Homo sapiens: one gene and its partners. The protein of the gene in region 2 interacts with the protein of the main gene of each other region in a biochemical or structural test. Each region holds a gene or a part of one and is shown on either strand. Other genes may lie near its edges. The genes, in order: SYN1, NOS1AP, SYN2 and LRP2.

Region 1 (7,039 bases), on a different chromosome or scaffold from region 2:
TGTGGAATTTCTTCTCCCAGGTGGGAGAATACAGCGCAGGCCCCCAGGGTTTTGGAGTAGCGGTGACTTTTCCTGATGGTGGGCTGTAATGGGATTCTGGTGGAAGGGAATGTACTGGATGGTGAAATATCCCTGGAACTTGAGTGATGTCAGGGAAATGGTAACCAGACTTGGGTGACTATTCCCTAAACGCCATTGAGTAGCTGAAGAAAGACCTGACATGCTCAGGGTGAATTCAAGGCAAAATGTGAAAGCCAGAGGATCTCCCTGACTGCATTTAAGGAAACCCTCATCTCCTGCAGTCAGAGGGCAGACAGAAGGGAGGGCCAGGCTCAGAATTTAATTCTACGTGGTGGCGGAGCTTCGGAGAAAGTTGACTTCTCAGGCCCAGCACATCTCCTGGGCCATGCTCATGTCCCTAATAGGACAGGAGTAGGACTCTGAGATGGGGATATCTGGGCAGATGCAGTTAAACACCTTGAACTTACAGACTCACCTGCATCCACTGGGCCTGCTGAAGTAGACTACTCCCCTGAGTTAGAATATAGACCTTCTGCTTGAAGATAATGCAGAGGCCTCGGATGATGCAGGTGCTTTGTAAGACAATGCCTGCCCCCCTCAGAGTCTACCCCCCACCTACCCTCCTGGAAACCAGACCAAAAATTAGGGTGAAATCCTAGTGAAACCTGACTGGACAGGTTCTAGGCTTGCAAAGGGAGAGAAATGATCTGTAGAAGAACCTAAAGAATCTGGCTAGTACGTATTGGCAGGAGCTGGGAAGGTATGCATGAGACTGGATCCTGAGGACAATGGGCGAAGGAGGTAGAACAGGAAGTTGGTGTGCTCTCCCAGGATACGGAACTTAAAACCCTGGCGAGGACTCTAGGAAGTGTTACTAACACACTGGTATTTGGAAACCTGGAGTAAACAATGGCCCACACTAAGTGAAGCAGAACTTCCATGGCAGATTGCACAGGGAAGGATTAAAGGGCTCAAAGAAGCAGACATGTTGGAGTAGATATACTACTGAAGTCTGGAAAACCCACCAGCTGATTAAGGCCTGGAGGATACACTCAACTTATGAAATTAATAAGAAACATGCTGGTGAGGGTGGTACCAGTCACGCTGAGAAGCACAGTAGTGGTAAGGTGATAAATGAGTCCTGGCCCAGGTCCTGCTTACAGTGGGTCTGGTGGGTCTAGAGACCCACCCAGTGGTCACTTCCTCAGTTCACAAATGCGTAATTGCAATGGCATACTTTGTAGTTGTCAGAACCCCTACATGGGCTCCTCAGCCTGTGGGATAAGAGCTGTTTCAGTAGGGAAGTCCAAATAGAAGCTTCTAAAATGGCGCACACCCCCATGCCCTGAACAAAACAATAAACCACAAACAATATTGTGTGCATCCTATGGGTGATGATGGAAATCAATGCCACATTGAAAGATCTAAAGGATGCAGGGGTGTTGGTCTCATCTTATCTCCATCGAGTTGAGCAGTCTGGCCCCTGGAGAGGTCAGATGGGTCCTGGAGAATGCTTGCAGATTACTGCAAGCACAATCAAGTAGTACCCTTAGTTATACCTGCCATACTGGACACGCTGTCATTGCCAGAGCAGATTAATAAGACCTCAGGTACAGCAGGTGGCTGCTGACTTGGCAAATGCATTCTTTTTTATTCTGATTAGAAAAAAGGATCAGAAACAGTTTACACTCACATGAGACTGATGATAATATTCATAGATGGTCTTGCTGTAGGGCTATGCTATCTCTCTCACCTGGTGTCATAATATAGTCCAGAGAAACCTGGACTATCTGGACATCCCATGGAATAGCACACTGGACCACCACATGGATTACATCATACTGATTGTGCAAGATGAGCAAGAGAGGGTGAGCATATTGCCCTGGTAAGACACATCCACTACAGAGGGTGGAGGATAAACTCCACAAAGACTCAGGGGACCGATGCATTAGTAAAATTTTTAGGAATCCAGTGGTCCAGGGCAGTAAACCAGGACAGCCCCTCCAAAGAATAGAGCAAAGCATTGAATCACGCACCTTCCACCATGAAGAGGAAAGCACAATACCTAGGAGGCCTCTTCCCATTCTGGAGGCAGCATGTCCCCCACACACAAATAATGCTCTGACCCATATTCCAGGCGACATGTAAAGCTACCAGCTTTGTGTGAGGGCCAGAGCAGAAAAGGGCTCTGCAGCAGGTCCAGGCTGTGGTACAAGCAGTCCTGCCATTTAGGCCAGATGATCTGGCAGATCTTATGATACTGGAGGTGTCAGTAGTGGGGAAAGATGCAGTGAGGAGCTTATGGGAAGCCTGAGTGGGAGGCCCTTGGGGTTCTGGAGCAAAGCCATGCCATCTGCAGCAGAGAATTTTACGCCTTTTGAGAAAGACACCCCATTGAGGTGCTGGGCCCTGATAGAGACAGAATGCTTGACCAGGCACCAAATGATTGTGCATCCAGAAGTTCCCATTATAAGCTGGGTCCTGCTGGGCCCGCCAAATAATAAAGTCAGGTGGGCCCAGCAGTCAGGATTGAGCCCAAGCAGAACCAAGCAAGGTGCATGAGCAGGTAAGTAACCCTGATCCCCATGTCTTCCACACTGTTGTGCTAGTGCCTGTCTCACTAAGGGGACTCCTTAAAACTAGCTGATGAAAGAGGGAAAGGTCTAAGCTTGGTTCACAAATTGGTTGTCTTAGTATGTGGGTGGAAGCCAAAAATGGGCAGTGGTTGCACTATAACCCAACTGGAATGGCCTTGAAAGACAGTGGCAGAGCTCCCAGTGGGCAGAGCTTCAGGCTGTGCACCTGCTCATCTCCTTTGTGCAGAAAGAGAAGTGCCTCAAGATTAGAATACATATATCCACTTATGGGCAGTGGTAAATGGTTTGGCTGGTTGGTCAGGGGCCTGGAAATAAAAAGACTGGAAGATCCAGACAAAGAGGTCTGGGATACAGAAATGTGGGCAGACACCTAGGAGTGGGCAAGAAATGAGGAGTGAGACTGGGCGCGGTGGCTCACGCCTGTAATCCCAGCACTTTGGGAGGCCGAGGTGGGCGGATTACCTGAGGTCAGGAGTTCAAGACCAGCTTAGCCAATGTGGTGAAACCCCATCTCTACTAAAAATACAAAAATTAGCCGGGCGTGGTGGCGCACGCCTGTAATCCCAGCTACTCGGGAGGCTGAGGCAGGGGAATTGCTTCAACCTGGGAGGTGGAGGTTGCACTGAGCCAAGATCGTGCCACAGCACCAGCCTGGGCAATAGAGCGAGACTCCGTCTCCAAAAAAAAAAAAAAAAAAAAAAAAAGGGAGGAGCGAGGATCTTTGGATCGTGTGTTAACACCCACCAGACAGCATCTGCCATGGCGCCATGGAAGTGACACTAGGCAACCAGGTAGACAGCATGAGTCAGCCCGATGATGTCAGCCAGGCTCTAATCAGCCACCCCAGTGTTAGCAGATGGGCACATGAATAAGTGGCAATAGCAGCAGAGAGAGAAGCTATGTGTGGGGGCAGCAGTGTTACTGCTGAATGTCCAATCTGCCAGCAACAGAGACTAACATTGAATCCCTGACACGCCACCATCCCTCCAGAAGGCCAACCAACCACTTTGTGGCAAGCTGATTAGATTGGGCCCCTTCCATCCTGCAAAGAACAGTAATCGATTTTGACTGGAATATTCCATATTTGAGTTTGCCTTTTCTTACTGCAGGACCTCAGCCAGCTCACTGTCTAAGGGCTTACATAACGTTTGATCCACCAGCACGAGACCCTGCATAACACTGCGTCAAACCAAAGGACACACTTTATAGCAAAGTAAAGGAATGCAAAGCAAAGGAGGTGCAAAAGTGGGCCCATGACCATGGAATTAACTGATGGTATTACACACCACGCCACCCGGGAGCTGCTGGCCTGATGGAATGATGGAACAATTTGGTGCAGCCACAGCTAAGATCCCAGGTTGAAGGTGAGATCATGCAAGAATGGGCACCATCCTCCAAAACAGTGTCAACCCTAAATCAATGGCCATTGTAGGTGCTGTGTTCCTAACAGGTAGAATACACCGGTTTGGGGACACAGAGGTTAGGAAGGAGTGGCCCAGCTTACCAGCAATCCCAGTGATCCACTTTTGAAATTGTGCTTCCTGTTCCCTCAGGGCTCTGCAAGGTTAGAGGTCCTGGTTCTCCAAGGGGGAACACTGCTACCAGGGGACACAGCAAGAATCCCATTAAACTGTAAGCTATGATTGCCCTCAGGGCACTTCGTGTTTCTCATGCCAAGGGACATAAAAAGGAGCCATTGTCTTGGCAGGGGACGTGACCAACCTTGCTCCTCAGGAGGAGGTAGAGCTGCTGGTACACAGTGGAGGCAGGGAGGAGTATGTCTGGCACCCAGGGGATCCACTTGGGCATCTGTTGGTACTCCTTGCTCAACTTTGATAGTAAATGGGAAATGTGGTTGTTTGTACAGCAGCTACAGCCTGAGAAGGGCATGGGGACCAAAGGCTCAGGGATCTCTGCAGGATGGGAGCCACCCAGACCAAGAGTGGTGCTAGCTGAGGGTGGGGGGAATCTAGAATGGGTAACAAAAGAAGGAGAGGATGAATATCATTTATGACGTTGAAATCAACTGCAGCAGCAGAGACTATGGCTCATCTCACTACCGTGCTCTTTCAAGTGTCCCTGAGAAAACAAGACCGATTAGAATTCTGGAAATGCCGTTCCCCAATGGGGTGAACTTACTATAAGAAGGAAGTGGATCGGAGCAGTGCAAGGTGTGGACTATATGCTCCCCCCAGATCCTTACCTCCTTGTTCCAGACCTTTGCATCTATCCTCAGCTTCTGGAATTATCCGCTGCTGATGGCTCATAGGTGTCCCTCACTGGGCATTGGCCTCTGCAACAGGGATTTGCCTCACCCAAGATTACGCCTCCTCCCAGGGGGCAGCCTACAGCCAATGACTGACATAGGAATTCAAAGCCTGGCCACCCCGCTTCAACTGGGACAACTCTGAAGGGTCATTCCAGTGCCAGAGCTCCCCAGAGGATTGGCCGAGGCCTCTTTTGTGGTTGCATCACAGCTCAACTTTTCCCTCTGCACAATCCTGCTTCCCTCACAACCTCCCCCACAGGTGTTATTCCCAAGCGCTCTCCCCAGTAAATCTGCATGCAAATCTCAGAGTCTCGGGGTCTGCTTCCAGGGAAATATATCTGAGAAAAGAAGCCACAGTAAGAAATAAAGCTTATATAACCCACTATATATGTATTTGCATAATAACTCATCCTATATATGTATTATATAAGACACATATGTTGTACAGCAAATATGAGAATATAGAATGTCTTATATATTATGTAACATATAAAATGTTGTATATTACATATTATGTGTATATGTATTTAGAATGTATATAAATACATATGCATAACTGGAATTAAAGTTTCAATAGATAATTACCTTTACTATGTGTAATGCAGTCTGATTTTTCTATGCTATTTTATTTCATTTCATGAAGAAGAACATATACATATAGATGTATTATGTACTGTAAAGCCATTGTATAACACATGTATTACATACCGTATGTCATATATAATATACATTACAGATTGTATATCTTAATGGAATAACATTATATGTTTTGCTAAACAACAACTCCATTTACTATGTGCAATATGCTCTGTTATTCTCTATTTTTATTTATCCTACTTCAAGAAGAAAGTGAAATGCTGGTCATAAGCCAATAGGTGACCCATAGTTTGAGAAACACCAGAGAGCCGGGCACGGTGGCTCAAGCCTGTAATCCCAGCACTCTGGGAGGCCGAGGTGGGTGGATCACGAGGTCAGAAGTTTGAGACCAGCCTGACCAACATGGTGAAACCCCATCTCTACGAAAAATACAAAAATTAGCCAGGCATAGTGGCATGTGCCTGTAGTCCCAGCTACTCAGGAGGCTCGCTTGAACCCAGGAGACGGAGGTTGCAGTGAGCCGAGATCGTGCCATTGCACTCCAGCCTGGGCGACAGAGCAAGACTCCGTCTCAAAAAAAAAAAAAGAAAGAAAAACACAGGACAAAATTACCCACAAAATGGGGGAGATGAGTCTCAACTTAGAGTTTTCAACTTTAAACCACAGAGGAATTGAGACCCAGGAAGGAATGAGGGTGGTGAGGTTTGGTGGAAAAGGCGTCAGACTGTATTTCGGTGTACATTCCATCACAGAGTTTGCACAACTCCTGCTTTATTTGGGGCTGAAATCCCTGAAGCTAGTGTGGTTCTGAGTGTCTGCAAGTTGGTAAAACAGGTCTCTGTTCCCCACACTGAGCCTGGCGTACATACATAGGCTCTGTCCCTTTGTCCACCCCACCCCACATATAGTAGACACTAAATAAATATTTGCTAGATTGCCTGGAAGAAAAGACTGGAGGGGATGCTGGGATAAAGGGGGGCTTCTGAGATGCAGAAGGGGAAGGGATGGATCTTTCACTGAATTCAGCAGGTGCTCAATAAATGTTTTCTGGACAAAGAAAAAATGGAAAACATTGAATTTGTGATTATGGAAAGGGGAAGGGACTTGTCAGTATTCCATAGATAATAAATGCTTGATGGAAAGAAGGAAGCAGACGCAAAGGACCTGCATGGAGGGCTGGAGTGGAGACCGGAAGTCTAAAGGAGGGTGATTACCTATATCCAGCAGAGGCCTCATTGATGTTTGCTGACTTCAATGGAGCAAACTTAACCAGGAAGATAACACGTTGGTGAGTGGACGTTGGTGAAGGAATTACAGCACGTGCTCCATAAATGCTTTACAGATTGATAGAGAAAAAAGCGGAGAAGCCTGCTGCAGGGATGATAATGTGGCTGTTTGAAAATAATACAGTAAGAGATTAATAAGTGTTTTCTGGACTAATTCGGGGAGAAAAAGGCAGCTGGGGAGATGGCTACTAAGTGGAGGAAGAGGCCTAGCTAGAATAAATGGAAAACAGTGCACATTGTGAGCTTTCAGGATTGTGTTGTGTAAAAGG
Region 2 (7,039 bases):
AAACAGCAGCCAACTCTGTGTCATGCACGGTGCTAGGCCATTTACAGGTACTACTGATTCAATCCTCCCATTAACCCTACGAAGTATGAGATATTTGTATCCTCTTTTTACAAATGAGAACGCTAAAGGAAAGATGTTACATAACTCACACAAAGTCAAGTAGCAAGTGAGGGATAGAGCCAGGATTTGAACCCAAACACAGTTTGGCTCCTGAATTCATGCCATGCTATGCTACCAACCAAATTCATGTCATAAAAATTGCAAAGTAGCAAATTACAGAAAATAAACCATGAATTAGGAAAAAAAAAAGACATCAATTCATTAATGAGAAAACAAGTTGAAAATGTTTCTTACATAAATGACAATTGAGAAATGACAATTACCTACTCCTGAAATTGGCCATATGTTCTATATTCAGATTCTAATTCCACTGGACATCCATCAGTGGAATTTTATTTAATTCAGGAAAAAAAAATGCTTACTTGGTATTTTCATTGGAAGGAATCAGCACTGTGTGAGATTGGGGGTATCAGAAAGAGGCCATGCTGGGGGGTCCCTCAAGCCACTGGGAACCGGAAGTTACTAGACTAAAGCAAGAGAAATGGTGGGGAGGAGTGGAGAGTCAATTAAGGCACCTCTCACCATTGGGTGACCCAGGAGGGTCCTGGCCATCTTATAGGGATCATCTCTTTCATTCAAAATACATTTTCTATGTGCAAGGCACTGTACTCAGGGCTGTGGAAGACACGGGGGCAGAGTGACATGGACCCTGACAATGACAATGTAGGGATGAAAATTGGACAGGACAAGCAGCTCTAATACAAAGCAGGTGGGACTGGTAACATCCACTTCACAGAGTGACTTGTGAACGGGGTGGGAAACTGCAGTGAGGGTTAAGGGAATGGTGGGTACTACAGTTGGGTTGAAGCCCAGGGTGATTAAAGGGAATTGTTCAAAAACAGCCTTGAATATCATACTAAGAATTTTGGTTCTAATATAGTAGGTACAGAAACTTTTCATGTTTTTGAGTGGGAGGATAACCATTTCAAGAAAATTGATAGGGCAAAAGTTTAAGGGATGAGGGGGATCAGAGAACAAGTGGGACACTGGAGGCCTTCAGAAGGTTATTGATGGCCCTGATAACAGGGGAGGGGGTGGAGCATCTGAACGGGTGATGGACCAGCCAGGGTGGGTGGATGGATGTCACTGGGAACATTCAAGAGGATTTGGCACCTAACTTGATGTGGGGTACAGGAGAGTAGAGCCTGGACATCATAGGTACCCAGTAAACAGCAAATTTGAGTTGGCTGTTAAATCAAAGAATACAAGGGGTACTTTAAAGTGTCAGGCCCATGTGCCCAAGAGGATGGTGGGGTCGTTAAAAGACAATGAAGTCAGAAGAGAAATTTGATTTCCAGCTTGTTGAGTGATAGGGACAGCAACACATTCAGGTACAGATGACCAGCAGGAAGCTGCGCATAAAGATGTGGAGTCTGGACTGAAGTAGAGAGCCAGCAGCCTGCATAACAGAAGAGTGGGAGTAGATAGAATCCAAAGGAGAGGGAATGGAGCACTCACAGTAGAGGGCAAAGGGAGGAGGTAGAACAGCCACAAAAGAAGGAGGTATGGGCAGGGGCAAGGGGCTGGCTGACTGCAAGCAGGCACAGAGAGCCCAATGAGGCATTCCACAGAGGACTAGGACAGGCAGCTCAGGAAGAAAAGTCAAAAAGGATGAGGATAGAGAAGGGGGCAGCAGAGCAATTTCAGTACAGCAGCCAGGACAGAAGTTGGAAGGAAGTGGCCAGGGACTGAATGAAGACTGAGATACTGCAGAGGGTGGAGTACTCTCTCACAAGGCTTAGCTGTGAAAGGAGGAGAAAGACAACATGTTAATTAAAGAAAGAGGTGGAAAGAAGAGGTATTTCATACAGGGAAGGCCATAGCATACTCTTAGGCAGGGAGGAGTAAGCCAGTGCCCAGGAGATGTAACTGTGCCAGGGTGGGGGTGGGGAGTGAAGGGCATAATTAAGAGGACAAGGGCAGACTAACAGGACATGGAAGGCAGATGGATCTCAAAATGAGGGAAAAAGAAAAAAAATTGGACTTCACCAAAATTTAAAACTTTGTGTTTCAAAGGACAATACCAAGAAAGTGAAAAGACCACAGAATGGGTAAAAATATTGCAAATCTATATAAGGGATTTGAATCCAGAATATATAAAGAACTCTTACAACTCAATAGTAAAAAAGCCAATCCAACTTTTAAATGGGCAAAGGATCAGAATAGACATTTCTCCAAAGAAAATATATAAATGGCCAAAAAACACATGAAAAGATGGTCTTTTTTTTTTTCTCTGAGTCTGCTTCCTAGGGAATGAGGAGACATTCTATGTTGTTCAAAAGGGAAATGCAAATCAAAACTATGATGAAATCCCACTTCACACCCAGGAGGATGGCTAGAATCAAAAAGTCAGACAACAAGCATTGGTGAAGATATGAACACACTGCTGGTGGAAAGGTAAAACGATGCAGCCACATTGGAAGTCCCACAAATGGTCACACATGGTTACCATGGGACCCAGCCATTTTACTTTTACCCAAGATAAATTTTAAAAAATAAAAATAAAAACATGCCTGCACAAAAACTTGTACATGAATGTTTATAGCATTATTTTTAAGAGGCAAAAATGGAAACAACCTAAATGTGCCTCAGCTGATGAATGAACAAACCAAATGTGGTATATCCATACAATGATATATTATCCAGCCATATAAAGGAATTAAGTACTGATAAATTATAGATGAACCCTGAAACACAACACTAAGGCAAAGAAGTCAGACACAAAAGACCACATATTGTATAATTCCATAAATATGAAATGTCCCGAATAGGCAAATCTAGAGACAGCAAGTAGATTAGTGGCTGTTCAGGTCTGGGAAGACGCAGGGGGTAAGGATTACAGGTGTGTGCCATCATGCCCAGCTAATTTTGTATTTTTAGTAGAGATGGGGTTTCACCATGATGGCCAGGCTAGTCTTGAACTCCTGACCTCAAGTGATCCACCCGCCTTGGCCTCCCAAAATGCTGGGATTACAGCAGTGAGCCACCGCGCCCAGCCTAGTGTTTCTTTTTAATGTGATGAAAATGTTCTAAAATTGACTGTGGTGCTGGTAGTACAGATCTGTAATATCTTAAAAATCACTAAATTATACATTTTAAATTAGTGAATTGTATGGTATGTGAACTACATCTCAATAAAACTATTAGAAAGGAGGGAACTCAATAGTAAAAAGCCAATCCAACTTTTAAATGAGCAAAGGATCAGAATAGACATTCTCCAAAGAAAATATATAAATGGTCTTTTCCAAAAACAGAAAGGAAGAAGAAAAGTAGCAAAGATCAAGTTTGCAGGGTAGGGCAAAAAGGCAGGAAGGAACGGCCATGGGCATGGTCCCAGGCTGCTGGGGAGGGTAGACAGCAGGACAAGGGCAGCAAAAAGGTCACTGAGGAGCTAAGAGCATCCTCAAGGCAACAAAGGTATAAAGGGAAGGCAGGTAATTATAGCCAGCGAAAGCATTCTGAAAGTTTGAGTCTTGGGAGTAGCTGCATTATGAGTAGGCAATAGTAAACAGTGAGTCAAGCCTGATTAGTATAGATAACTGGCAAAGGTCATCATTAGATGTGGCTGCATGATTTTGACCACTAAAAAGGACTGGGACATTGTGGGCAAAGGAACTACGACTGAAAGCCATAAAATCATGAAATGTACAGCTAACGTGGAAATAGATTTGTCCATCAAATCCCAAGATACCAGGTGTGGAGGAACATACTGGGACATCTGAGAGCAATGTAAGGACAAATAAAATAGGTGTCATTTCAGAGCAGTACTGTATCTTTGGAACTCACTGCCCCCCACCAAAAAAAAAAGTAGTCTGGGCAGAAGATAAGTGTTTTTAAAAGCATCTGGAAAAGCATAAGAAAGTGAACTACGTCTCCTCCTTAATGATGACATCAGAAAATACATCAGACCCTTAATCTGAATTGCTACTGTTCCAGAACCCTGGAAGACAGGACCCTTAGTCTGGGTGGAGAGAAGGGAGAAAGGGGACATAAACACCCAGTGTATAGTGGAATGGTTCTGAGAGCTCTGTACCATGCCATGCAGGCTCAGACGAGTCAGGGATACCCCATTTACGGTGACCAAATGTCATTCATCTGGAGGCCTTCATGGCCGTATGTTTAAGAGGCATCCACAGATATCCTGCTGAGGTTACTGGAATCTCTAAAATCCACATCAGGGAAACCATCAACCAATGAAGCCAGGTAGCAAGGAAGGAAATATAGCCAGAGAATTCAGCTTCAATCTGACCACATGCTCCCAAGCCACAAAATCACTCAGCAATGATATTTACTGCTTTCAGACTTTCCACAATTGGTCATTTCTTCCACTTGACAATTTTTCATTGTGACTATGTTTGTACCTGATGTTGAGGCTTGGGAGGGGGAGATACACCAAGGCATGAGGCAAGGTCCTCAAAGAACATTCCATATCACCAGAGAAGATATATGCAGAGAGGAAAAAACAGAATTTTGTGTGGTAAACAGCTTCAGCAATATCTCTCATCCCACGTGCAATCTTGCAATGTGAACTTGACATTCCCCCATCAAGAAGTAGGGCTTATGTCTCTTCCCTAATAGCCTGTTTTGACCAACAGGATGTGGCAGAAGTGACCCTATGTAACTCAGAAAGACCCAACCTTAAGAGCTTCTGCTTTCCTGCTTGGAACACCCCCTACTGAAAACCAGCTGCCAAACAAAAGGGCCACCATGCTGTGAGGAAATCCAAGCCAGCCAGTGAAGAGAATAGTCACATGAAGGACGACCAAGGCACAGTCATATGAGTGAAGCCTTCTTGAACATTCCAGCCTAGCTGTGGATGAATGCAGCAAAGTGAGTGATCCAGTCAACGCCATAAGCAACAGAAGAACAGCCCAGCCAAGCCCTGCCTGAATTCCTGAGCCATGATTCATAAGCAAATTAAACAGTTATTGTTTCAAGCTACTGAGTCTTGAGGTCGTTTGTTTTGAAGTGATGGATAACTGAAACCAGTTTGAAGCCAGGGAACCAGGGATAAGTCCTGGTTCTGTTATTATCTGACTATGTGACCTTGGGTCCATGACTTCCCCTCCAAACTTCAATTTCCTCATCTGTACAATGATGGGGTGAGGGGGTTGTACTAGATGAGCCATGGTGCTTTCCAGTTCTGACCATCTGTATCATACACGCAGATATAAGGGAACAATCTAGGCAATGAGTGTTAGGACTACAAAGGGAGCAACTATTAATACTTCAGGTTTGAGTGAGCCTTGGAGGAGGTGAAAGAACCATGGACCTGGAGTCAAAAGCCCTGGAGTGTGAGGATTAAGTGAGGCAGAGGCTAGAATAATGTATGGCACATAGTAAGTGCTCAATAAATATCATTAACTGATACACCAATTTGCAACTCTGGACAAATTAATCTCTCTGATCTCCATTTTTTGGTCTGAAAAATCGAGATAACACTAATGTGCCTGTGCCTGTCTCTATAAGAGGAAAAGTCTTTGTATGTAGAAGTCCAATGCAAATCAAAAATCACCTACAGATATAAGATATAACTATTATTAATACTCTTATTATCCTTTGTACCCATAGCATTAAAAGTCTCTTTCTCACCAAGAGAGGAGAGACAGTCAGTTGATGGCACTGGCCACCAGGAAGACATACTGGGAGATCAGGAGGCAGTTACTAAGGAGCCACAGGCTCTCAGGGCATGTGAGATTTACCCACCCACCAGCATCAGTCAGTAAGCCAGGTACCCACTCTGAACACAGACAACAGGTTTCCCTGGCAAGCAGCTCTCAGCCCAAAGGGAAATCTGGAAACAGCCAAGCATTAAAAGTTTGAGCCGGGCGCAGTGGTTCACGCCTGTAATCCCAACATTTGGGAGGCTGGGGCAGGCAGATCACCTGAAGTCGGGAGTTCGAGGCCAGCCTGACCAAAACGGAGAAAGCCCCATCTCTACAAAAAATACAAAATTAGCTGGGCATGGTGGCGCATGCCTGTTATCCCAGCTACCCAGGAGGCTGAGGCAGGAGAATCACTCGAACCTGGGAGTTGGAGGTTGTGATGAGCTGAGATCATGCCATTGCACTCCAGCCTGGGCAACAAGAGCAAAACTCCATCTCAAAATAAATAAATAAATAAATAAATGTTTGAATAATTTCCTGTACCAGAGTTCTAGAGGCCAGCAACCTGAGAACACTCCACTAGAGAGCTGTGACTCAAACCCGTGGCCAACATAGAGTGAATATTCCATAAAAATTATTGAATGAAAAGGCACTGGATTTGGGAGTCTGAAGTCAAAGCCCCAGGCTTAAATCTTGGCTTTGTCATACACAACTGTGAGCACTAAGGCACGCAACAACCTCCCTGAGCCTATGTCCTCGTTTATAAAATAGACATAAGGAGACCCATCTCCTAGGGAAGTAGTGAGAATTAAATGAGGTACTGCAGGTGAAAAAAATCTGGGATTGCACTTGATAACTAAATGCATGGGTTTTTAAGTGCACAGAACCTCTGCCACCCAGATGCCCTTCGATCCTAACCCCACACCTTTCAATCTCTGCAGAACCCTGAAAATGAGTGGCATACTTCCAAAGGAACACTCAATCCAATGTTGATTCTGAAAAACTGCCAGCCCTTGGGAGAGAAAGAGCTGCACTCATTTTCCAAGGGTACCCGACAAGGCAACAATAATACATTTGCATTTTCCAGCCTGCATTTTTCCAAAACAAGGGAAGACTGCGATGTGGATTTAACCCTGAAATCCCAGTGATTGTGCAGTTGCATAGACACTGCTCTGCAGGGATGTGGAAAACAGCCAGAGAAGGCTCTTACCAGGAGCATGTAGGACAGAAAAGCTCGTGCTTCCACCTCTGCTTAGGTCTTGACTAACATGGTGTTTGAATGTGCCAGGGTGCAGCATCAATTACAAAGATCT
Region 3 (3,184 bases), on a different chromosome or scaffold from region 2:
AATGTTGTAGTTTGGATTTTCTCATTAGAAAACTCCCTAAGAAACTTGTAAAGGCCTGATATATATCTCTTTTGCCACTGGACACCCTGAACCCCATAGACCTCATATTAGCGCTCTTCTGAGGAGGGTTACAAGGGTGGTTACTACATCCATTTTAAGAACAGGGAAATTGCCGGGTGCGGTGGCTCACGCCTCTAATCCCAGCACTTTAGGAGGCAGAGGCGGACGGATCATGAGGTCAGGAGTTCAGGACCAGCCTGGCCAAGTGAAACCCCATCTCTACTAAAAATACAAAAATTAGCTGGGCATGGTGGCAACCATCTGTAGTCCCAGCTACTTGGGAGGCTGAGGCAGTAGAATCGCTTGAACCGGGAGGCGGAGGTTGCAGTGAGCAGAGATCGCACCACTGCACTCCAGCCTTTGCGACAGAGATTCTGTCTCAAAAAAAAACAAAACAAAACAAACAAAAAGAGAACAGGGAAATTGAAGTGTTAGAGTTTTGAGCCAAGCCAATATATTCTTTTGGAATCAGAGAAGAGATCAGAATAGAAAGAGCCAAAAGTGCCTAGAGATCTTCATTTTACCAAACTTGACAGATGAGAACCCAAAGAGAGGCACGTGGCTTGCCTCCAGTTAGGAGGGAGTGAGTGGCAAAACGAGACTTTGGCCCAGGTCTTCTCATCTGGCTCCACCAGTTGACAGTTGATAGAGAAGACAATGCCAGCATCACAGGCCCATTGTGACTTCTTTTCATCAGAAAAGTAATGTGAGATTCCTAGGTTAGTTCTTACCAAGTTGGGATCTGTGAAATTTAGCCCTTGGGCATTTCAGATTAAATTAAAGAAGCGGCCTTTGAGTCGCCTCTTCCTCCTCTTTCCCTTCTTTATTTTTTTCCTTCTCCCTTGTTCCCACACTGTCCCCACCCTTTCTATTCTAGTAGCACCAAAGTTGAGGAAGTAGCGTAGGAGTCTCCCAGGGTCTTGGTAGCATGGCCACTTCTGGCATTATCCTCCATCACCTTGGTTTCCCAGGGAGGGAGTGGGGGTTCTAGCTGTGTATCCTCACGTCACCGTCCTTCCCTGCCTTGCTGGGAACACCACCCTCTCACATTCTCTCTGGTTTTTATCTTCAAGCAAGTCGCAGTCCCTGACAAATGCCTTCAGCTTCTCTGAGTCCTCCTTCTTCCGGTCTTCAGCCAATGAGGATGAAGCCAAAGCAGAGACCATCCGGAGCTTGAGGAAGTCCTTTGCCAGCCTCTTTTCAGATTAGCTCTTCAGACACACGGGGCACCCAGCCCAACCGGGAAAGGCATCTAAGACATTCACCAACAACAGTCAGCCAGCTTGGTGGTTATGTCCCATGACCTTGACGTGTGTGGTCCCTTCCTCTGCTCTGTTGTACTAAGTGATGTTGTGCAGCCCAGAAAGGACCATTTGACAGTCTCAGGGCAGGTGCCTACCCAGCAAGGGGTACCTGGCATCAGAGAGGAAAGAGCTGCTTCCCTGTAGTCATGAGAGCTTCCTTCTGAAGTCATCGTTCGCTGTGAGTTTAGTGGCCTTATTGTGACAGTGCCATCATGTCTTATTCTTCCCTGTGAAACCAGGATTAATCGTGGACTCCTGGCAGCTTAACCTAGCTCAGTTGCAGTGCTAAGCATGCCCCGCCCCCATTCAGTGATACCTGTTTGGGAAGTATATACTTCCCCAAAAGTACTCTTGGCCCTAAGTTTTAGGAACTTTCCCCGACCTGGATCCCTTGTCATACCTGTGTTACTGTTTAAAGCACACCCACCCAACTTACAAGATCTTAGGCTGCTGTGGTGGTGAAGCACCTTGAGTCTGCTGATATTCGGGAGAACAAGGATCTGCAGTTTCCCCTTTTCTCCCCTCTGAAGAGTGGTTCTTATGTGCAATCTGCAGTAACCTTGAACTCCAGAGCTGCACTATAGAGGAGAATGCATGCCACTATGACAGCAGTATGCCAAGCTTTGTGTTCATCTCCTAATAAACGTTAAGACCTTTGGTGTAATAAAAGCAGCAGCATTCACCAACATTTGATTCAGCCATGAGGTCTTGACCCCTTGGCCACCCTTTAGGCTGAGAGAGTGTCCATGAGGGGTGTGTGTGTGTGTGTGCTTGAGTGTAGGGAGTGAAAAATCTAGGTGTGTGAAGCTGTTTGTGTCAGTTTGTGTGTGTGACTGCAGGTGTACATGTGTTTGCAAGTGTTTGAGAATGTGTCTGTCCTTTACATACCACTTCTGGGCCTCCTCGCACCTCCCCAGTGAATCTGTCTCCTCCAAGACACCTAGCCTTCCTTCAGCAACTCAGCGTTTCTACCTATATTACGGACTTTGTAACCTTTCAAATAAGCACAGAACCCTTGCTCCCGGAGGAGTCAATTTAGACTCACTTGCCTGGTCTATCATCAAGCTCCTCAGCTGAGGCCCACATGGTGGTGCCAATGAGGCTGGACCAACCTGCTCTGACAACCAGGCTCCCACAGATCTCAACGAAGGCATCCTAAAGAGGCCTGCAATTGAGGGTGGGCTCTGAGGGATTTCACTCTGGCTGCTTCATGACTCCCTGATACTCAAGTATATTTTCCCAAAGACCACGGATGCTGTGAAGATAAACACTACATCTGCACCAATAAAAAATCCATATATTAAAATGTTAATATCTGAATGTTAATAAGTATCTAGATAATTTCCTACACATGACACCCATCCTACTAACTCAACAAGATAACCTCCTCCAAATGCCACTATCTTAACTTCTCTTCACGGGCAGTAGATGCTGCAAGGTCAGAGAATGAATTTCTCCGAGAACCAGGGTCTCCTTTCTTACTCATTCTCTGTTTTCACAGTTCAAGGATTGAGCACCGTACCCTCTTCTTACACTTAGAAAACAGGAAGTAGAACCTCCCATTGAGTGACCCCTGGGGGGTGAGAGCCCTCCTCCCACAACACACATAACTAAGGAACAAACCAACCAAACCAATGCGTGGGGTACCTGGGCGCAAGGCAATTGACCTTTAGAGTTCCTTCTGTTTCCAGCTGTAGGGGAGGCAGATGTCCTCTTAACGTTCTGTGGCTGGGCCTGAAAATTAAGCATACATAAGACAGATGAACAGGACAAACGTATACACATTTTATTTAATATTTTTATGCGTACGTGGGAATCTT
Region 4 (7,039 bases), on a different chromosome or scaffold from region 2:
CTGTGACTGAAAATACTAATCTACCCATGTTTCTTTTCAGAGCATTTATTTTTTACTGACTGGAGACTGGGTGCCATTATTCGAGTCAGGAAAGCAGATGGTGGAGAAATGACAGTTATCCGAAGTGGCATTGCTTACATACTGCATTTGAAATCGTATGATGTCAACATCCAGACTGGTGAGTGAGATTGCCCAGTTTTTTTTATTTTTTTGTATGGGTTTATTTATTTGTTACAGTGGCTCCTGTTCTCTTTAAGTACTTATTACTTAAAGGTCTAGCTCCTGGTAGTTTTATATTCTTGTCGTTCACATAATCTAAGAGTGTAAGACTTGAAATCTCTGTTCAATGCTGCTAGCCTTAAACATGTTGTCAGGAAAAACACATTTTGGGACTTTTCCATACCTAAATGGAATGTTGTATTTGGCGGGTTGATTTCCAAGAGGAAGCTACTTTTTAGTATTGGGTCTGAAAAATGTTTTGTCCTGTTTGTTTTCCTTCACAAATCAAACCCGTGACCTACCTAGTGAAAATGTACATGACTGACTCCCTCGGGGCTTTGCTTTTGCAGGTTCTAACGCCTGTAATCAACCCACGCATCCTAACGGTGACTGCAGCCACTTCTGCTTCCCGGTGCCAAATTTCCAGCGAGTGTGTGGGTGCCCTTATGGAATGAGGCTGGCTTCCAATCACTTGACATGCGAGGGGGACCCAACCAATGAACCACCCACAGAGCAGTGTGGCTTATTTTCCTTCCCCTGTAAAAATGGCAGATGTGTGCCCAATTACTATCTCTGTGATGGAGTCGATGATTGTCATGATAACAGTGATGAGCAACTATGTGGCACACTTAGTAAGTAGCTATGCACTGGCGATATTTCCTGGGATGAATAGAGTAGAGGTGGGCTTTAAAGAAAATAAATAAAAGCTTGGGCTATTTATATGGGAAAAATATCTTTTAGAATTTCAGATTCTTAACATGCACTTTGAAGGCTTTTAGGAAGCTAAGCAAGAAATTTCATTCATAATGTTATGGATGGTTTCTGGCCTTGATTTAGACTATCTTCAACAATTTTTTTCCTTGACATTGGCTGTTTGGACCAATGCAGTCATTATGTCTTGGCAAACTCCTCAAAAAGTCAAATCGAAATAAACTAGATCTGACCAGGCAAGGTGGCTCATGCCTGTAATCGGAGGCCGAGACAGGAGGATTGCTTAAGTCCAGAAGTTTGAGACCAGCCTGGGAAACATGACGAAATCCGGTCTCTACAAAAAATATAAAATGGCACATGTATACATATGTAACTAACCTGCACATTGTGCACATGTACCCTAAAACTTAAAGTATAATAATAATAAATAAATAAAAAAGAAATAGATGAGCTCAGAAAAAAATATGTATATAAAATTACAAATAGCTGGGACTATTACAAAATACAAAATTACAAAATACAAAAAAAACAAAATTACAAGTAGCTAGGACTACAGGCACATGCCACCACACCCAGCTAATTTGTATTTTGTATTTTCACAAAATTTGTAAAATACAAAAATTTGTACTTGGGAGGCTGAGGTGGGAGAGTTGTTTGAGCTGGGGAGGTTGAGGCTGCAGTTAGCCAAGACTGTGCCGTGTACTTCAGCCTGTGCAACAGAGTGAAGCCCTGCCTCAAAAAAATAAGCAAACAAACAACAACAACAACAAAAACCAAAAATAAAGTAGACCTAACATTTAGCAACCGAGAGAATAGTATCACAGAATAACTACTTGCAATCATAGCCTTTGGAAAATCTCATGTGTTATATTCCTTTTCTCCCATGTTAGAGTAAAATAAATTAACAATGAAATGGTGGTCTTAACCTTTATATTCTTCTTTTGACGGTAATCTAGTCTATATAGTTTGGGGCCTAATAAACACTATTGCAGAAGGCAAAAGTATTACATTCAAATTAAAAAAAAGATAGAGGACAGTTGAAATCTCAGAAATCTCTATCAAGGTGAAGTTAATACTAATAATAACCTTTCTTTTGGAGAGAAAGAGGAGTGACAGATTTGCAAGAGTAAAGTGCTCACTTGTACATTTTTCTGAAATTTTTTAAATTTTCATCTTTTTGTGTATTATCTTCTTGTTTCTAAGAGCACAGCATTTTACCTTAATATTTTATCTATTTGCACTTTTCATATGACATATTTTCAAGCTTTCTATAGTCTGAATTTGAAATTGTGGTTGGAGGAAGTAACAGCTTGAAAGTTAAGGATGAGCTTTAGAGTGAATCCAACCAGAGCGTGAATCATAGGCAGGTTCCTAAATCTCTCAAAGACTCAATTTCCTTATCTGTAAAATGCAGACAATTATATGTACTTTATAGTATTCTTGTGAGGATTTAAAGAGAACTTATATGATGTGTGTGGGTGCATAACTTAGAAAAATGCCTTTTCTATGATAAATACCAAATAAATGCCAGCCAATAATGATGTTAGTGATGATGACATCACTTGATGAACATTTCTCCTTATTATATACAATGCCTCCATTAAAAAAGGTGAACTGAGCCTTTATAAGGCAAGAACTCATTTAAAAGGCTGTAAAAACAAATGTCTTCATGACCAGTTTGTTACTATTGTAGATAATACCTGTTCATCTTCGGCGTTCACCTGTGGCCATGGGGAGTGCATTCCTGCACACTGGCGCTGTGACAAACGCAACGACTGTGTGGATGGCAGTGATGAGCACAACTGCCCCACCCACGCACCTGCTTCCTGCCTTGACACCCAATACACCTGTGATAATCACCAGTGTATCTCAAAGAACTGGGTCTGTGACACAGACAATGATTGTGGGGATGGATCTGATGAAAAGAACTGCAGTAAGTTTTGAGCTGGTTTCCCTTGGTTGGTCAGCCTCGTAAATAGACTTCAACAACCAAATGGCCTTGCATTCTTTCCTCTAAGGCTCATGCAATTTTCATTGTCTCTTTAGTACTTCTATTCCACTTGTCAATCTCTGTGTCAATAGGTTACAAGAACAAAGGCACGTGCCTGCACATGGGATTCTTAGAGTCCACCTACAAATATTGAGTTCTATGGAAGCAAAGCAAGGACTGCCTCTGATGCCAAACATTTCAATTCAGATAGGAATTGAAAAAGTGAAAATCCCTCAGCTATCTATTTATATATTTAAAACAATACTAAAAGTCATATAGATATATCCAGACCTTTGGCTATTGATGTTTCTTTTTCATTTGGTACAAGCAAAAAGACATCAAAATAAAGAGGCACAGAAAATTTAAATTTCCTTTGATCTTATCCACCTGTTTTCCATCTTGCCAGTTCTGCTTTCCTTTAGCTTGTTGTTTTATTTCATGTCTTCAATAATAGTTTAAGATGGAGCAAAGTTCCCTGGGCTAAGTTCTAGTCCTGGTTGCCTGACTAGGCAAGTCACTATCATTTGGAATAGATGAGCTTTAAGATCCCTTCTAGCTTTCATACCCTATAAGTGTGTATTTAATATAATTTCATGTTGTGGGTGGGGCCAGCCACTGCATCCGACTCCAAGGCTATGGTCTTAACAGTAAGGTAGGACCCTGGTTTTTAGAATTGTTCTGTTCAGACTTTTAAATCCAGTTTTGGGGGTCTGTCTACACACTGTTGCTACTAGGCATGTGGGTCATGCTGGTTTTGTTGCCTGATTGGGCTCCATTGCTTGGCTTTGGTCTAGAGTCATGGACTTCATAGTATTCATGAAATGTAGTCCAAGTCCAAGCACATGATGCTCACTTTCTGAATGTGGTCTATTTTCCAAGGTGTAATCACAGTTTCTGACTCTGCCCTGTAATCTTTTTATTCTCAATTCTAAAACCTATCCTAGTTTTGAGTTCTTTTGCTTAGCTGACTTTGATAGTGTGGCTGATTCAAAAGAATTTTGAACCCATGTACAATTGAGATAACTTCTGTAGCTATTTAGCCATTTTTAGTTTGGCTCTGGTACTTGTTGCACAGGAAATAAACTTGTTGGTTTTGTTTTCGGATGACATTAGATTCGACAGAGACATGCCAACCTAGTCAGTTTAATTGCCCCAATCATCGATGTATTGACCTATCGTTTGTCTGTGATGGTGACAAGGATTGTGTTGATGGATCTGATGAGGTTGGTTGTGGTAAGTGCATTGCCTTCTTTTTTATTCACAATGTTTATTTAGAAAAATCTCAGTGTTAACACATGGACACAGGGAGGGGAACATCACACACCGGGGCCTGTTGGGGGGTGGGGAGCTAGAGAAGGGATGGCATTAGGAGAAATACCTAATGTAGATGATGGGTTGATGGGTGCAGCAAACCACCATGGCACGTGTATACCTATGTAACAAACCTGCATGTTCTGCATATGTACTCCAGAACTTAAAGTATAACAACAAAAAAGAAAAATCTCAGTGTTTAGTCATTTTAGCCCTGAGCTAATTTCTAATGCTTTTCTCTTTCATTCTTAGTATTAAACTGTACTGCTTCTCAATTCAAGTGTGCCAGTGGGGATAAATGTATTGGCGTCACAAATCGTTGTGATGGTGTTTTTGATTGCAGTGACAACTCGGATGAAGCAGGCTGTCGTAAGTAACACATACCCAGAATGTTTCAGACAAAGGGGTCATTTCATTTTTGCCAGTATTGATATTGATATTGCCACACATTTTCCCTAACTCAGACAAACTGGGGGAAAGTATCCTCAAAGGAATGTGGTATTGAACATACAGTAAAATTGAGTAGACATTGCCATATAATGTGTAATTAACAAATCAAGTGGTTGTATAAATGGACACTTCAAATAGTCTCTTAGATGGGCTAAATATTTCTTAGATATTTTTGTTTTCACTTTTAGTTTTTCTTAGGACTTCCCACTTTAGTAGGTTTAAACTTTTGAGGCTCTACTCCATATAAAGATATTTTACTGGTTTCTTTTAAGTTTCAGTAGAGAAGTCATATCATGGTGTAGAAATGGTATGGAGCTGTGTTTAGTATTGACTCTGATGAATTCATTCTTTGTGCTATTATGTGTTGAATATCTGCTAAGATGTTATCTATGGAGATTATAGAAGGCAAGAGACAATTAAGCAAGATAGACAGTTACAAGGGTCTTAGAAATGGCACAGATAAAATTCTATGGAGGTTCAGAGAAAAGAAATTTCTTCTAGTTGGAGGATTCAAGTAGGACTTCATACAGTATAATTCTGATGGATCTATAATCTTCACAGACTGGAAACCTATACTCACATGATTTGTTATTTGCCCACTTTTTGTTTTAAATGGATTTTAGACTTGCAAAAACTCATCAGTGAGTTGATCATTTGTTTGAACAATGGTGTTTTAGACCAAAAAAGTAAGTTTTCATGAATTCTCCTCCTGCGTCAGAAAGGTAGTGTGTAAAGCCATGGATTAAAAAGAAAAGTTAAATAAAATGCTTATATACTTTATAGTTTGCACAACATCTAGAAATTACTAATCACTAATTTTCCTGTTTCACATTAAAAACATAAAATTCTGTGATGAGCTGAGGTTAAACTGTCAATTGCCGCTGGCTTGCTGTTGCCTTGTGAGATCCCTGGTAGAGAGTTTTGGTTTACCCTTGTCAAATAGGGAAGCAGTTCTTACGTATCTCTCCAGGATTGCTTGATGAATAGTGGAAAGTTTGCAAAGAACTGAGTATTTACCATCATCTTTAGTTAGTGTGTGATGGTTTCATTAGGTATAGTTCATCTGAGGGAAAATAATAACACCCAAACATGATATGAAACACATGAAGTTCAAAGTAATCATAGCTATTTAAGCTCTATTGTAATGTTCTGGTGATTCTTTCATAGAAAGATAGATAAACTTTATTATTGAATCTGCAATTGGAAGTACATTAAAAACACAGGAAAAGGAAACAGGATGTTCTTTTGACACAGGTACTCATCTGCTAGTCAGCAGTTGTGCGTTCTGTACTTCGTTTGTTGTCAGAGCCACTAGCTGCCACAAAGAAATATTTCTATGTACTAGAGTGTGGGAGAAGACTCTATATCATTTAGCCTTAAATATTAATTTGGTCATAGTTGTTACTATAAACCTACTATTGGATCCAAAATCATTTCCTCTGAGTCTAGACTATAAAAGGGATCACAAATTACATTCACAAGCCGATTTACCCCATGTTTTCCTTCTAGCAACCAGGCCTCCTGGTATGTGCCACTCAGATGAATTTCAGTGCCAAGAAGATGGTATCTGCATCCCGAACTTCTGGGAATGTGATGGGCATCCAGACTGCCTCTATGGATCTGATGAGCACAATGCCTGTGTCCCCAAGACTTGCCCTTCATCATATTTCCACTGTGACAACGGAAACTGCATCCACAGGGCATGGCTCTGTGATCGGGACAATGACTGCGGGGATATGAGTGATGAGAAGGACTGCCCTACTCAGCCCTTTCGCTGTCCTAGTTGGCAATGGCAGTGTCTTGGCCATAACATCTGTGTGAATCTGAGTGTAGTGTGTGATGGCATCTTTGACTGCCCCAATGGGACAGATGAGTCCCCACTTTGCAGTAAGTTTCCTGACCACAGTTTACTGGCCATAAACTCATTCTGAACAGTAGCCTGGTGTGCATCACCATTGTCACAGTCACTGTGTAGCTTTGTAGGAAGGATTTCAGTTCCTCTATGAGTTCACATCTGTGTAGGGGGTAACCATAATTGAATTCAAATACATCACCATTGGATAATTTTCTGATTAAATCCTTTGTACTTGGTTATGTGTTTTTACTTCTTTTTATGTCTTTGTTTCAAAAAATGAGACTAAATTGAGGCCATTAGATTGTCAAATTAAATTTGGTTCTGTTGGTAATGTGCTCATTAATTTTTCTAACTTTAATATTTTCTAATTTCAATCAGAACTTATCACAAAAAAATGAAGTCCAGGGATTTGTGTTGCTGTGATTAAAGTGCTGTGATTGGCATGTAATCCTAATTACTGTCATTTCTTTCTTTCCTCTTTAATCAATGCTCACTCTCAGATG

The links.
Region 1: the proteins of NOS1AP (region 2) and SYN1 form a complex in vitro, tested with the Homo sapiens proteins (one study listed by BioGRID).
Region 3: the proteins of NOS1AP (region 2) and SYN2 form a complex in vitro, tested with the Homo sapiens proteins (one study listed by BioGRID).
Region 4: the proteins of NOS1AP (region 2) and LRP2 form a complex in vitro, tested with the Homo sapiens proteins (one study listed by BioGRID).

Annotation. Positions count from the first base shown.
Region 1 is NC_000023.11:47,609,835-47,616,873, forward strand, and holds part of SYN1 (synapsin-1), read right to left. Parts: intron 1-7,039. UniProt on the Homo sapiens protein: Neuronal phosphoprotein that coats synaptic vesicles, and binds to the cytoskeleton. Acts as a regulator of synaptic vesicles trafficking, involved in the control of neurotransmitter release at the pre-synaptic terminal.
Region 2 is NC_000001.11:162,072,663-162,079,701, reverse strand, and holds part of NOS1AP (carboxyl-terminal PDZ ligand of neuronal nitric oxide synthase protein), read right to left. Parts: intron 1-7,039. UniProt on the Homo sapiens protein: Adapter protein involved in neuronal nitric-oxide (NO) synthesis regulation via its association with nNOS/NOS1. The complex formed with NOS1 and synapsins is necessary for specific NO and synapsin functions at a presynaptic level.
Region 3 is NC_000003.12:12,189,357-12,192,540, forward strand, and holds the end of SYN2 (synapsin-2), read left to right. Parts: intron 1-1,133; coding exon 1,134-1,269; 3' UTR 1,270-2,676; downstream 2,677-3,184. UniProt on the Homo sapiens protein: Neuronal phosphoprotein that coats synaptic vesicles, binds to the cytoskeleton, and is believed to function in the regulation of neurotransmitter release. May play a role in noradrenaline secretion by sympathetic neurons.
Region 4 is NC_000002.12:169,240,517-169,247,555, reverse strand, and holds part of LRP2 (low-density lipoprotein receptor-related protein 2 precursor), read left to right. Parts: intron 1-40; coding exon 41-178; intron 179-569; coding exon 570-851; intron 852-2,623; coding exon 2,624-2,863; intron 2,864-4,033; coding exon 4,034-4,153; intron 4,154-4,483; coding exon 4,484-4,600; intron 4,601-6,190; coding exon 6,191-6,568; intron 6,569-7,039. UniProt on the Homo sapiens protein: Multiligand endocytic receptor. Acts together with CUBN to mediate endocytosis of high-density lipoproteins. Mediates receptor-mediated uptake of polybasic drugs such as aprotinin, aminoglycosides and polymyxin B.